2 separate regions of the Homo sapiens genome follow, and region 2 is linked to region 1. Evidence: fine-mapped QTL for protein levels in blood plasma. A gene starts in region 1. The other region holds a variant in brackets. All regions are shown on one strand. Distances are between the middles of the regions. Region 1 holds the start of NT5E (5'-nucleotidase ecto). Region 2 overlaps NT5E (5'-nucleotidase ecto).

Evidence for each region. PIP is the chance, under the fine-mapping model, that this variant and not a neighbour inherited with it causes the effect. Protein levels are from antibody-based Olink assays in UK Biobank. Linkage for the fine-mapping came from a reference panel and not from the study's own genotypes, which makes the PIPs less certain.
Region 2: its variant is fine-mapped to the plasma level of the NT5E protein (UK Biobank, PIP above 0.99). The variant lies in the coding sequence of NT5E. If it changes the protein, the assay may bind it differently, which can mimic a change of level.

The regions. Positions count from the first base shown.
Region 1 is chr6:85,445,927-85,454,454 of GRCh38, forward strand. NT5E (5'-nucleotidase ecto) reads left to right here and starts at 4,157. Exons shown (of 9, transcript NM_002526.4): 1 at 4,157-4,552. The coding sequence starts at 4,214. RefSeq lists a silencer at 3,950-4,219.
Region 2 is chr6:85,488,502-85,491,499 of GRCh38, forward strand. NT5E (5'-nucleotidase ecto) reads left to right here. Exons shown (of 9, transcript NM_002526.4): 6 at 993-1,098; 7 at 2,007-2,156. Among named protein-coding and RNA genes, the nearest start is that of NT5E, 40 kb to the left of the region's middle. The variant A/G (reference allele first, on the strand shown) is at 1,014.

The sequences.
Region 1 (8,528 bases):
GCCCACTTGTGGAACTTTGAGCAATTAATTTAACATGTTGAAGCTCCATTTTATTACCCATAAAAGGAGAATGATATTGCAGCATTATCACAATAGTCAAGCTTTGGAATCCACCTAACTGTCCATCAATGGATGAATGGATAAAGCAAAAATGTGGAGAGTAGAATGGTGGTTACCAGGGGCTGCCTGAAGGGTTACTGGAGAGGCTGATCAAAGAATATAAAATTTCAGCTAGATAGGAAGAATAGATTCAAGAGATCTACTGTATAATTTGGTGACTATAGTTAATAACAATGTATTGCATACTTGAAAATCACTATGTGAGTAGATTTTAAGCGTTCTCACCACAGAAAAAGTGGGGGTGGGGAGCAGATAATAATATTTACCCTTCATGCTTTTGTGAAGACTTAACAATGTAACCTGAGTATTGGAATTCAATTGTGCTCAAAACCTGACTGCCACTTACTTGGACATGAATGATCTTAAGCAAATTATTCAGCCAGGTTAAATATCACATTAAGTTTTCTTACCAATAAGATGAAATATTAATAGTCATTTAACAGCATAATCCAAATGTGCCAGGATGCCTATGACAAGGTCCCTCTGTTTTCTTTCTTTTTTTTCTTTTTTGAGACAGAGTTTTGCTCTTGTTGCCCAGGCTGGAGTGCAACGGCGTGATCTCAGCTCACTGCAACCTCTGCCTCCAAGGGTTCAAGAGATTCTCCTGCCTCAGCCTCCCAAGTAGCTAGGACTCCAGGCGCCCGCCACCACACCTGGCTAATTTTGTGTATTTTTAGTAGACATGGGGTTTCACCATATTGGCCAGGCTGGTTTCAAACTCCTGACTTCAGGTCATCCACCCGCCTCGGCCTCCCGAAGTGCTGGGATTACAGGTGTGAGCCACCGCGCCTGGCCGGTCCCTGTTTTCACCCCGCATTCACCTAAAAGCAGGTCTCAGATTTTTAATTCAGCCCACCTAAATAAATCTATCTCAGCAAATTTAAAGAAAAATTGATATTTTATTAAAGACTTTGTGATAAGATATAAAATAGGTTCTCATCACAAAAGAAACTTAAATATATATTATCCATTAGATAGCTCCAGTGGTGTGCTGGTAAATGTTCAACAACTGACTCTTAAAGAAAAACGCATGCATTTATATACATACATATTTATTATAAATTTTTCTGATATAAAAGATTGTTACACACAATTTACTATTTGTAAATTTTACTATTGGTTCCTACAGACTGCTTTCATTGATTTTTGCAGAACTTTTGCAATCCATAGCCAACCTATGGTTCCGGCTGAACTGATTTGACAAATGGAGTTATATACCCATTTATTTTCTAATAAATCAATAACGTATTGTTATTGGATGTAATATGTAATCTATTATTAAAGTATTTGTCACCCTATTATATAATGAGTGTAGTACAGGCTATAGTCATTAAATTAAAACCTAGTTTTAGCACTAGATATATTGTTCATCAATGATGTGAGTGAGATTTTTCCTGAGTCAGAAAATAGTTTTCTAATATGTACTGAAATAATATTTTCTCAATTTGGGGGGCTATTCCCAATGTAATGGATATTAGCACCACACACTTTTAAGTTTATTCTGCATTATTTTGACATTTTCTTCATTACTTTCTTAAGTCTAATCAACTGATGAAACAATAAATAAAGCCCTGATTTGTATGTAAATTTTTGCCTGTATATTTTTCTTTCCTCATGGACTTGGGAAATTTTCTATGATCCTCATGGCTTTGCAGCTACTTACTGTATGCACCCTCACCTTGTTTGCAGCATTATCAGCTCCAGGACAGCCGAAATCCTTCTTGGTTCTTTCATACTATCGCCCACTGTGTCTAAAGTAGATTTTAAGTTAGTGTTACTTGAATTGCAAGTACTACTACCACTGAAGCAGCAACTCTGTTTCCATTGCTTGGGGAGAAGACCAAAAACACACATTAAACACCTGGAGAAAAAAAGTAAAACCACATTAAAGTGAGATTGTAGGAACTGACCAGAAATTTAGAAAAGAGAAAAACTCACTGCTGTGTGAAGAAGTCAAAGGAACTTCATGTTGACTTGAACAAGAAATTAAAGGAACCCCGGGCCTTGGCCTAAGGACAGACTGGAAATGGTGGTTTGGAGAGAAGAAATGAGGACAAAGGGAATGTGTGAGGAACAGTGGAAGGTAAAGTTGGCTGGATAAAATGAGACTTCAAAATGCCAGTTTGCGAAGCTTGAACTTGGTGCAATAAACAATCAAAGGCCATTTTAGATGTATATGAAAACAAATGGCATGGAAATGATATTGAAGCAGAAATCTGGTAGCATCCCCAGAACAGGAATTTCAGAAACTATTGCAGTGGCTTAGGTTTAAAAGACAAGAAACAACAAATGATCAGTTCCCCAGTGATCAGTGATAGGTCATGTTGATACCGTGTACCCACAGATACCAGGCAATGAGAAAGGCACATAATCTCTGTAGCATTCTTCCTAAACATCCACAGCTTCAGTCCAATCATGAGAAAACATCAGACAAACCCAAACTGAGGGATAGTATACAGAAACCAGTACTGTTCAAAAGTGTCAAGGTTTTTGAAGACAACTGACTGAGAAACTGTCACAGATTAGAGGAGGCTAAGAACACAGGAAAACTAACTGCAATATGGTATCCTGAATTGGGTCCTGGAATAGAAAACGGACATTAGTGGAACAGTTGGTGAAATTAAAATAAAATCAGTAACACAGTTAATAGTTTCGTATCACTGTTAAGTTTTTAGTTTCATTGGTTATATAAGCTGTTAACATAAGGCAATATGGGTGATGGGTATGTGGGAACTCCCTTTATTACCTTTGCAACTTTTCTGTAAGTCTAAAATCATTCTTTTTTTAAGTTAAAACAGCAAAACTACCAGTTCTTTTACCTGCTTCTAGCAGGTGCTCAAAGAGGGACAGAGCAAAACCTTGCAAAGCATGACATTAGAGGGTGTCCCAGAAGCAAGGGTCTTCTGTAGCCCCAGGCACTGCTGCTCCCAAACTGCATGGCCTTTCTTGGCAAATGATTTACAATCTCCGAACCTCAGGTCAATGTCTTAAAAACGGGCACAGAATGTCTTTTCAACAAATGGTACTAAGAAAACTGGATATCCACATGAAAAAGAGTAAATGTGGACTCATACCACATATGAAAATTAACTCAAAATGGATTAAAGGTCTAAGAGTTTAAATTATAAAACTCTTAGGAGAAAACATAGAGGAAAATCTTCCTAACATTGTATTTGGCTATGACTTCACTGCGACACCGAAAGCACACGCGACAAAATAAAAATAAAATAAAATAAAATAAGACCAGAAAAGCAAAGAAGGGCAGCATCCCTTCCCGTCCTGATAGCTGCCGGATTTTACCCCAATCGTGTTTCTGCTTCCAGGAGCTGTCCGCGCGTCGCCTCTGTTTTATCACTAAGGTTTTAATTGTGAATAAACAAGGAACTGGATTCGAATGATTTCTTAGTTTCTGAGATTTTTTTGTCTAAGCATCGTAGACTTCGTGCGTTCTCAACCCAACAGGAAGCGTCACATCTCAGTGAGCTTCGGCTCTCACAGCCCGAAACTGCAAGGAGCTCCTCTGCCCGGCCTCTCTTTACTCCTCCTCTCTGCCCCTCAGCTCGCTCATCTTTCTTCCCGCCCCCTCTCTTTTCCTTCTTTGGTTCTTTGAAGTGATGAGCTAGCGCAACCACAAACCATACATTCCTTTTGTAGAAAAACCCGTGCCTCGAATGAGGCGAGACTCAGAGAGGACCCAGGCGCGGGGCGGACCCCTCCAATTCCTTCCTCGCGCCCCCGAAAGAGCGGCGCACCAGCAGCCGAACTGCCGGCGCCCAGGCTCCCTGGTCCGGCCGGGATGCGGCCGGTACCCGCTCCCCGCCGGGAACAACCTCTCCACTCTTCCTGCAGGGAGCTGGTGCCAGCCGACAGCCGCGCCAGGGCCGCTCCGGGTACCAGGGTCGGATCGGGTGACGTCGCGAACTTGCGCCTGGCCGCCAAGCCGGCCTCCAGGCTGAAGAAGGACCCGCCCCGGCCTTGACCCGGGCCCCGCCCCTCCAGCCGGGGCACCGAGCCCCGGCCCTAGCTGCTCGCCCCTACTCGCCGGCACTCGCCCGGCTCGCCCGCTTTCGCACCCAGTTCACGCGCCACAGCTATGTGTCCCCGAGCCGCGCGGGCGCCCGCGACGCTACTCCTCGCCCTGGGCGCGGTGCTGTGGCCTGCGGCTGGCGCCTGGGAGCTTACGATTTTGCACACCAACGACGTGCACAGCCGGCTGGAGCAGACCAGCGAGGACTCCAGCAAGTGCGTCAACGCCAGCCGCTGCATGGGTGGCGTGGCTCGGCTCTTCACCAAGGTTCAGCAGATCCGCCGCGCCGAACCCAACGTGCTGCTGCTGGACGCCGGCGACCAGTACCAGGGCACTATCTGGTTCACCGTGTACAAGGGCGCCGAGGTGGCGCACTTCATGAACGCCCTGCGCTACGATGCCATGGTAAGACCCGAGCCCGCGCCCGGGATAGTAGTCCCGGACTGAGAGAGGAGCCGGGCTGGAAAAGCAGCGGATGGCAGAGTGTGGCAAGCCTAGGTCCAGGGCGCGGAGAGATGTGGGGATAAAGTGAGACTCCGGCCAGTGTGCCAGCTGGATGCATAGAAGTCCCTTGGACGATTCGTCTTAAACGGACGTTATTGCGCCCCCACTATGAGATGGGAGTATTTAGAGGAGCAGGACCCAGTCCTGCCTGCGAGGGGCTTAAGGTGGGGTGCGTAGAAGCACTGACAGTTATCCAGAGCTAGGGACTGAATCGGATCCCTCACGCAGCTCTCATTTACTGCTAGATCTTTCAAAGAATGCTTTATCTCAATCTAGATCTTTCGAAAAATGCTTTATCTCAATCTTATTGAAAGGGAAACCGCGTCGAAGAAGCTGAATAAATTAACAGGCACCATCCCCGCAAAAAGGGAGACGTGATAAGAATGGACACCAGATCTCTTTGACCCCGGAGCTTGAGAGTAATTAAGCTCACAGCTTTGGGGTAGATTCTCTGTTCAATTACCTTCTATGTGACCTTGAGCAAGTTATTTACTCTTTCTTGCCTCAGTTCTATCCTGTATAAAAATAAGGATTATAATTGTACATAGTGCACATAGTGTGGTCTCTATATTATTACCAGACACATAGTGTGGTGTCTATATATGTTGTTATTACCAGACACTATAATATAGGGTTAAGAAAAGGAAAGAAAGAAAGAAAGAGAAAGAAAGAAAGAAACTTCAGAGAGAGCCAAAATGTGGAAAGACTTGGGTTTCAAAGGATTTCAATAAAGTAGGTTTGGCGGCAGAGATTTAGGAAGAGTCCAACTTAAGAGATAATGGGCTCTTAAAACATGTGCAAAAGTTTAGTTCAAAGTCCCAAATGTTAGGTTAAAGGTAATGCCTTTTCTATTGCACTAAATTCTAGAAAGGGAGCAGAGGTGGTTGCACAGTAATAAATAAGTACAACCAAGATGTATATATGGTGGTTAAAAAAAAAATAAAACCACCACCCAAATTTAACCCTGTGTAAAAGCCTTGAGTAAAGGGATTCAGCAAGACTGTGGAGAAACTTGGGAGAAGAAAAAAGAGCTTTGGAAGAGGAAGAACTGAGAAATCTCCAGAGAAACGTCCAGAGAAATCTGTGAAGTCCACAAGTGTGGAAGGGAAAGGGAAGTGTGATTAGGCTGGGATACAGAAGGCTAACAGTACACTTTATATGAGAAGAGCTTAGAGGTCAGGAGAGCACAATGCTGAGGGGTTTGTTTGGTTTTATTTTCCCCTCTGGAAACTTGGAGAAAGGAGGACAGGAAAAGATGATAAGAGGGCACCATTGTTTGGTTTTAAAGGTCCCTCCCCAACCCCCCACAACAAGAAAGCTCATTTTAATGAGATGAGAGAAGGGGAGAAAGCTCCCTCCGTTCTGATGCTTTTGAGCTTATCAGGGACACCCTGCAGCAGAAATTCCAGCTGATCCTTCAGCCTTCAGAGTTGATGAGGTGGGGCTCACACACATCTGGATTTGAAGAAGAATCGTGGGTTTCAAGAACTCTGTGGTCTCTTAAGCATTGGTATTCCACAGCTACACTTCCCTGATACTTTGCACTCAGTAATGACAAAATAAATATTTGTAGAATTGAGTTGTTGCTACCCTGTGTCTCCACTTCCTCCCAGAAGGGTAGAATAAACTTACATGTGTTTGTTTTATTTTGCATATAAACCACGACTTTGTAAACTTTACTTTTTGTGACACTCTTTTCTCCACAATTGTGTGAACCCTTTTTAGTGGAAAAATAAGAATGAAGAATTCCTAGTTTTCCCTAATAATATTTCCCTCTTGTAAGTCTAGTTGAGCTCCTGGTGTTAATCATGGTATCAAATGTTTATGACAGGACATCTAGGTGAGGCCTGAGTAAACTGCTGTAAGTTACAGCCTATCTCTTCTGTGTTTGTTCAGAATCCTTTTTGTTGGATGAAATTACTTTCTTTCAAATTTTGCTCAAGAAAATTGAATTGGGTTCTGAGGAAAAATAGGCTACTTACGTAATGTTGGCAGGGGGTAAAGATTGGGAGCGGATCACATGGCAAGGTTAGATGGCTGTGTCCTCAGGACTTACTCTGTGCAGTTTGGGGGTGTGTCAAACATGATTTGACGTGCATAAAATCCCAGTTCTGTAGTGCTAAAGCATGTGCTAAAGCTCTGCTGTACTCCAGTATTGCACAGATGTTTCACTGTCAATTGTTTATATTATACTAACCCTCAGAGAATTTATTGCTGTTGTGGTATAAACGTTCCTCCACTGTAACCACTCACCGCATATTGATTCCTAGGACACTGGGGATTCAAATCAGGGTGGAAAACAGTTGTGGAGGGGCATCTCCAGTTTCCTGGAGACTGGACCTAGTTCAAAGGAGCCACATAAAAGGACTGAAGCATATGGAGGACAAAGAGGAATTTCCTAGAATCCAGCTAAAACACAGGAGTCCCCTCGAGCAGGAACTTCCAAGGAGGTGTACACTTTCTAGACCTACTGGAGTAATCCTGATTGCTGTAGAGGACCCAGGGCAATCCTGGAGACCCCCTGGAACCACTACTAGGCAGAAAACTGGGAAGAGGATGGCAAAACTCTCCAGTTAGTGTAGCTGTCTCAGTGGAAGGACTGTTGTCCCCTGAGGCACGAGGAAGACAGCATGGAAGCACTGACAGTATGCGCTTGGCCTGGTTACTTTCTCTGAGCTTCATGTTCCTTAGCTGTAAAACAGGAGTGATAACCCCCATCTTGCAGAGGTTTTGTGAGGAATACATGAGATAATCCCTGCTGGTGCTCACTGAAAGTGAGTTTCATGTGCCCTGGGTGGGGAGGAGGGGAATTGTGAGGAAGGGAAGGTTTGGGTTGTGCATCAGATTATCTGATTCTCACAGCCTGGCACAGTCTACCACCTGCCTGCCCTCTACCATCTTACCTAAGTACCATTGCCTAAACTATTTTTGCTATAGTTACTCATTGAGCAGACTTATGAAATCTCCCCACAGCACAAAACTGAAGGTATCCACCTCCAGAGGTGAGATTCTCACCAAGACAGGCTGTGGGGAAGGTAGCTTTGAGCAGGTCTCTAGGGTCCCCTAGAAAGGTGCCTTTTCTCTGCTTGGCTGCTGCTTCTGAGGCCCTGGCTGCTGAGCCCACTTCCTGCCCATAAGGCTGCAGCCTTAGCCCTAGCCAATTGCTCCTAAATGGGGGAGGCAGCAGCCAGGGTGGGAACCATGGCCCCCGCCTTTAACTCACCCAGGGGACAGGTTAGTCAGATAGATGGTCCTTTGTTCGCCACCCTCCACCTCCCACATAGACAACATTCTAATGTGTTTGATGGACTGCATATAGTTTTGTTTCTACATGCACTTTCAAAACCTTTGTGTGCTTATATTTTATAATGGCATACCCAGTCCTGTTATTTAGCCCTTTCTGTTTCTTACTTTTGTCCTGAACTTATTGTTTTTATGATTTGTCCATGTTGCCCTAGATGCCCTTATACCTATACATCACTGTGAATTGTGCTCTGTGTATTTTACCCATCTCCACGTATTTTACCCATCTGCTCCCTGGCTGATGGGTTTGGAGATGGCGTCTAACACCCTGCCTCCACAAATAATGCTGCTCCAGATATCTTCCTGGATGGTCTCACCAGATGATTTCTACCCAGGAGCAGAATTGCTGGCCACAGGGCATACTTTGAGTACTACAAGACTGGTTTCCTCAATGACTGACATCCTCCATTCTCTTCCACCTACTCCCATCCCCAAACAGGACATGTAAATTTCTATATTTTACCTATATATCATGGCAGTATCCAGCTTTATTGTAGGTGTAAAATACACATTGCTGCTTTATCATGTACTTTTCTAATAACTAGTGAGTTTGGACATTTTTTGATATGTTTGT
Region 2 (2,998 bases), 40 kb after region 1:
GGCAGTGCTTATCCACTCTGTTAAAGAGGCTAGGACAAAGGAGAGCTTTTGCTTTTTATTTATTTATTTATTTAATTAATTAATTTATTTATTTATTGAGACTGAGTCTTGCTCTGTCGCCCAGGCTGGAGTGCAGTGGCATGATCTCAGCTCACTGCAACCTCCGTCCCTTGGGTTCAAGCGATTCTCCTGCTTCAGCCTCCCAAGTAGCTGGGATTAGAGGTGTCCACTACCACACCCAGCTAATTTTTGTATCTTTAGTAGAGACGGGGTTTCACCATGTTGGCTAGACTGGTCTCGAACTCCTGACCTTAGGTGATCCACCTGCCACAGCCTCCCAAAGTGCTGGGATTTACAGGTGTGAGCCACTATGCCTGGCCTTTTTTTTTTTTTTTTTTCGGCTTTTTGTCTCCTAAATGAGAATATATTCATTTTATTTCTTATAACTAAACATATATTTTGTAAAATAAAAGTAAGAATGGATGTGATTCTCCCCAGCTTCAAAAGGCTGTCTCTGTCTTTCCAAAATTGCCAACTTGGGAATCAGCTGCAGACATAGACGTGGAGGCCAGGTTCTCTTTGGCATGAGGTCTGGTGTTGAGCAGGCTCTAGGGCCAAGCCCTCAGAATCAGGCAGAGGGCATGGCCTGCCCTGGAGAAGCCTGTGCAGGAGTGACTCTGCAGGCCACCTTGCATGGGAGGCCCAGTCCCGACACCAGGGCTACAACCGAGAGACCATTTTGCTAAGGCCACCTGGCCTGACAGTATGGGAGTTTTAGGAGGGGGAAATAAGAGTTTGACATGGACTGGTAACAGTATATTTTTACTTCTGGGAGCATAAAATTAGTTCTAATTATAGTTGAGAGATCCCTGGGAACACAGCAGCAGGTGAAAAGCAGCTTTATTTCCTCACTAGAGCTAACCAGATTCCTGGAGCTGATCCTAAGGAAGAAGAGCCAGAGTAACTAGTGTAAATCTGTGCTACTGTTGCAGATTAACAACAACCTGAGACAC[A/G]CGGATGAAATGTTCTGGAACCACGTATCCATGTGCATTTTAAATGGAGGTGGTATCCGGTCGCCCATTGATGAACGCAACAATGGTATGCTCCCAGGCCCAGCTCCTCAGTGTGTCATGTTCTCTCTCTGATCTCCTTTTCTGTTATGGTTCTTGCCCTGAACACACCCATGTGCAGCCTCAGTTCATCTCTGCTGCCAGCCATGTACCAGAATGTCAGTCCTTTAAATTAGGGTTAGCCATTATTAAAGTCTAAAACCTAGCCTGAAGGACACACACAAGCTTGTGTGTTCTTATATGTATTCACACACAGAAGCTGCAGGTAAGGTTAGTGGAACTCAAACTTGGTCTGAATTTCTGACTTACAAAGCTATACTAGTTGTTTCTGATTTATGCAAAATAACAACAGTCACCACCTTGGCATCTGAAAAGAGACAAAATCACCAATCTTCTGTCCTGAAAAAGACATACCACTGGATTAAAATGTTACCTTAGTATATTTACAGATATCCAAGATTATATCATATGGCAAAACAAATCAACTACACAAATACTCAAGACACTCTTGTAGCCCTCCCTGATTTACTGTGAAAACCAATCAGTATCAGTATAAGGCCCCAAACGCATCCCATTGTCAGACAACAGGGACAGGTTGCAGGGGCACATTGTTTGTCTGGAGGAACGGAACAATGCAAAACAAACTACTGGAGATCCAGCCCCAAGCTAGCAGATCTAAGACTGAGCATGGTGAACTTCTGAGGCACAGCCATTTGTGAGCTCCCGCCATCTTGCCCAGTGGTGGAGTGCAGGGCCAGAGGCCTCCTAAACTCATTCCCTTCCTCAGTGTCAGGAACCACTTAGACATAGCTAATGATGCTCTATAAGCTTCCCATGTCCCCCTCATTTCTTCCCCCAGCGCTGAGGGAAACTGGTCATGGTGTAAGCATTTTCTCAAGCTATTTTCCTTCTTGCCTCATCTGTGACTACCCTCAGGCACAATTACCTGGGAGAACCTGGCTGCTGTATTGCCCTTTGGAGGCACATTTGACCTAGTCCAGTTAAAAGGTTCCACCCTGAAGAAGGCCTTTGAGCATAGCGTGCACCGCTACGGCCAGTCCACTGGAGAGTTCCTGCAGGTGGGCGGTAAGTCACCCATCCTGTAGGGCTGGCCCATCCAAAGTGACATGGCATTTCCTGCTGGTTGGCTCAGCTTCCCCTTCACCAAAATTCCTGTGGTCAAACTGGTTTGGATTTTTCCCGACCCAACACCAATACCTTACCCTTTAATGGCTGTGGACTCTCAGAGCCACTAAGATTAGGTTGGGGTCAAAGCCCCAAAGCCCCAAAGCCCTGGCAATAAGCAGTATTTGCCAAGTCTGATTTGGACATCAGATGGGCCCTCTAAGCAGGTCACCTGCTTTGAGGTCTAGTTTCTAATAAAATCTTATTTAAGCATTCAATTATTTTTTTTTTAAATCCTCTCCTCTGTTCTACTCATCGTTGCCTGGAACCATGCCAAGATTTAAAGGAATGCTGTCCAATCTGTATTAACCAGGATGATTCCTGGAAGGAGCAGCCTACTGCACAGACATACCTGAACACCTGGTTCTAGTCCCACTGTGACCTGGGGCAAGTTCTCAACCCCTCTGGGCACAGGGAGAAAACCTTTCCTGTTTATCTCATGGACTGCAGTGAAAGTTGAATGGAAATAAATGCTTCCTAAATTGCCAAGGGCTTCTGAAACACTTTTGTTAATAATTCCACAGTCCAGTGAATTAATCCTTTAAAAGCAATCTTATTTTACCTGGAAATCATAATCTGGCCTCATTTTTTTAACCTTAGGTTGTGGTCCCGCTTGACAGATAGAATTGCTTTCCTGAGTTTTCCTCTGCAGAACACATTGCTGTTGAGACTGAAGGGCTACAGAAGGCAGTGGGGCCCTGTCCTAATGCCTATGGGGCAACCCAAACATCCTCCATTTTCCC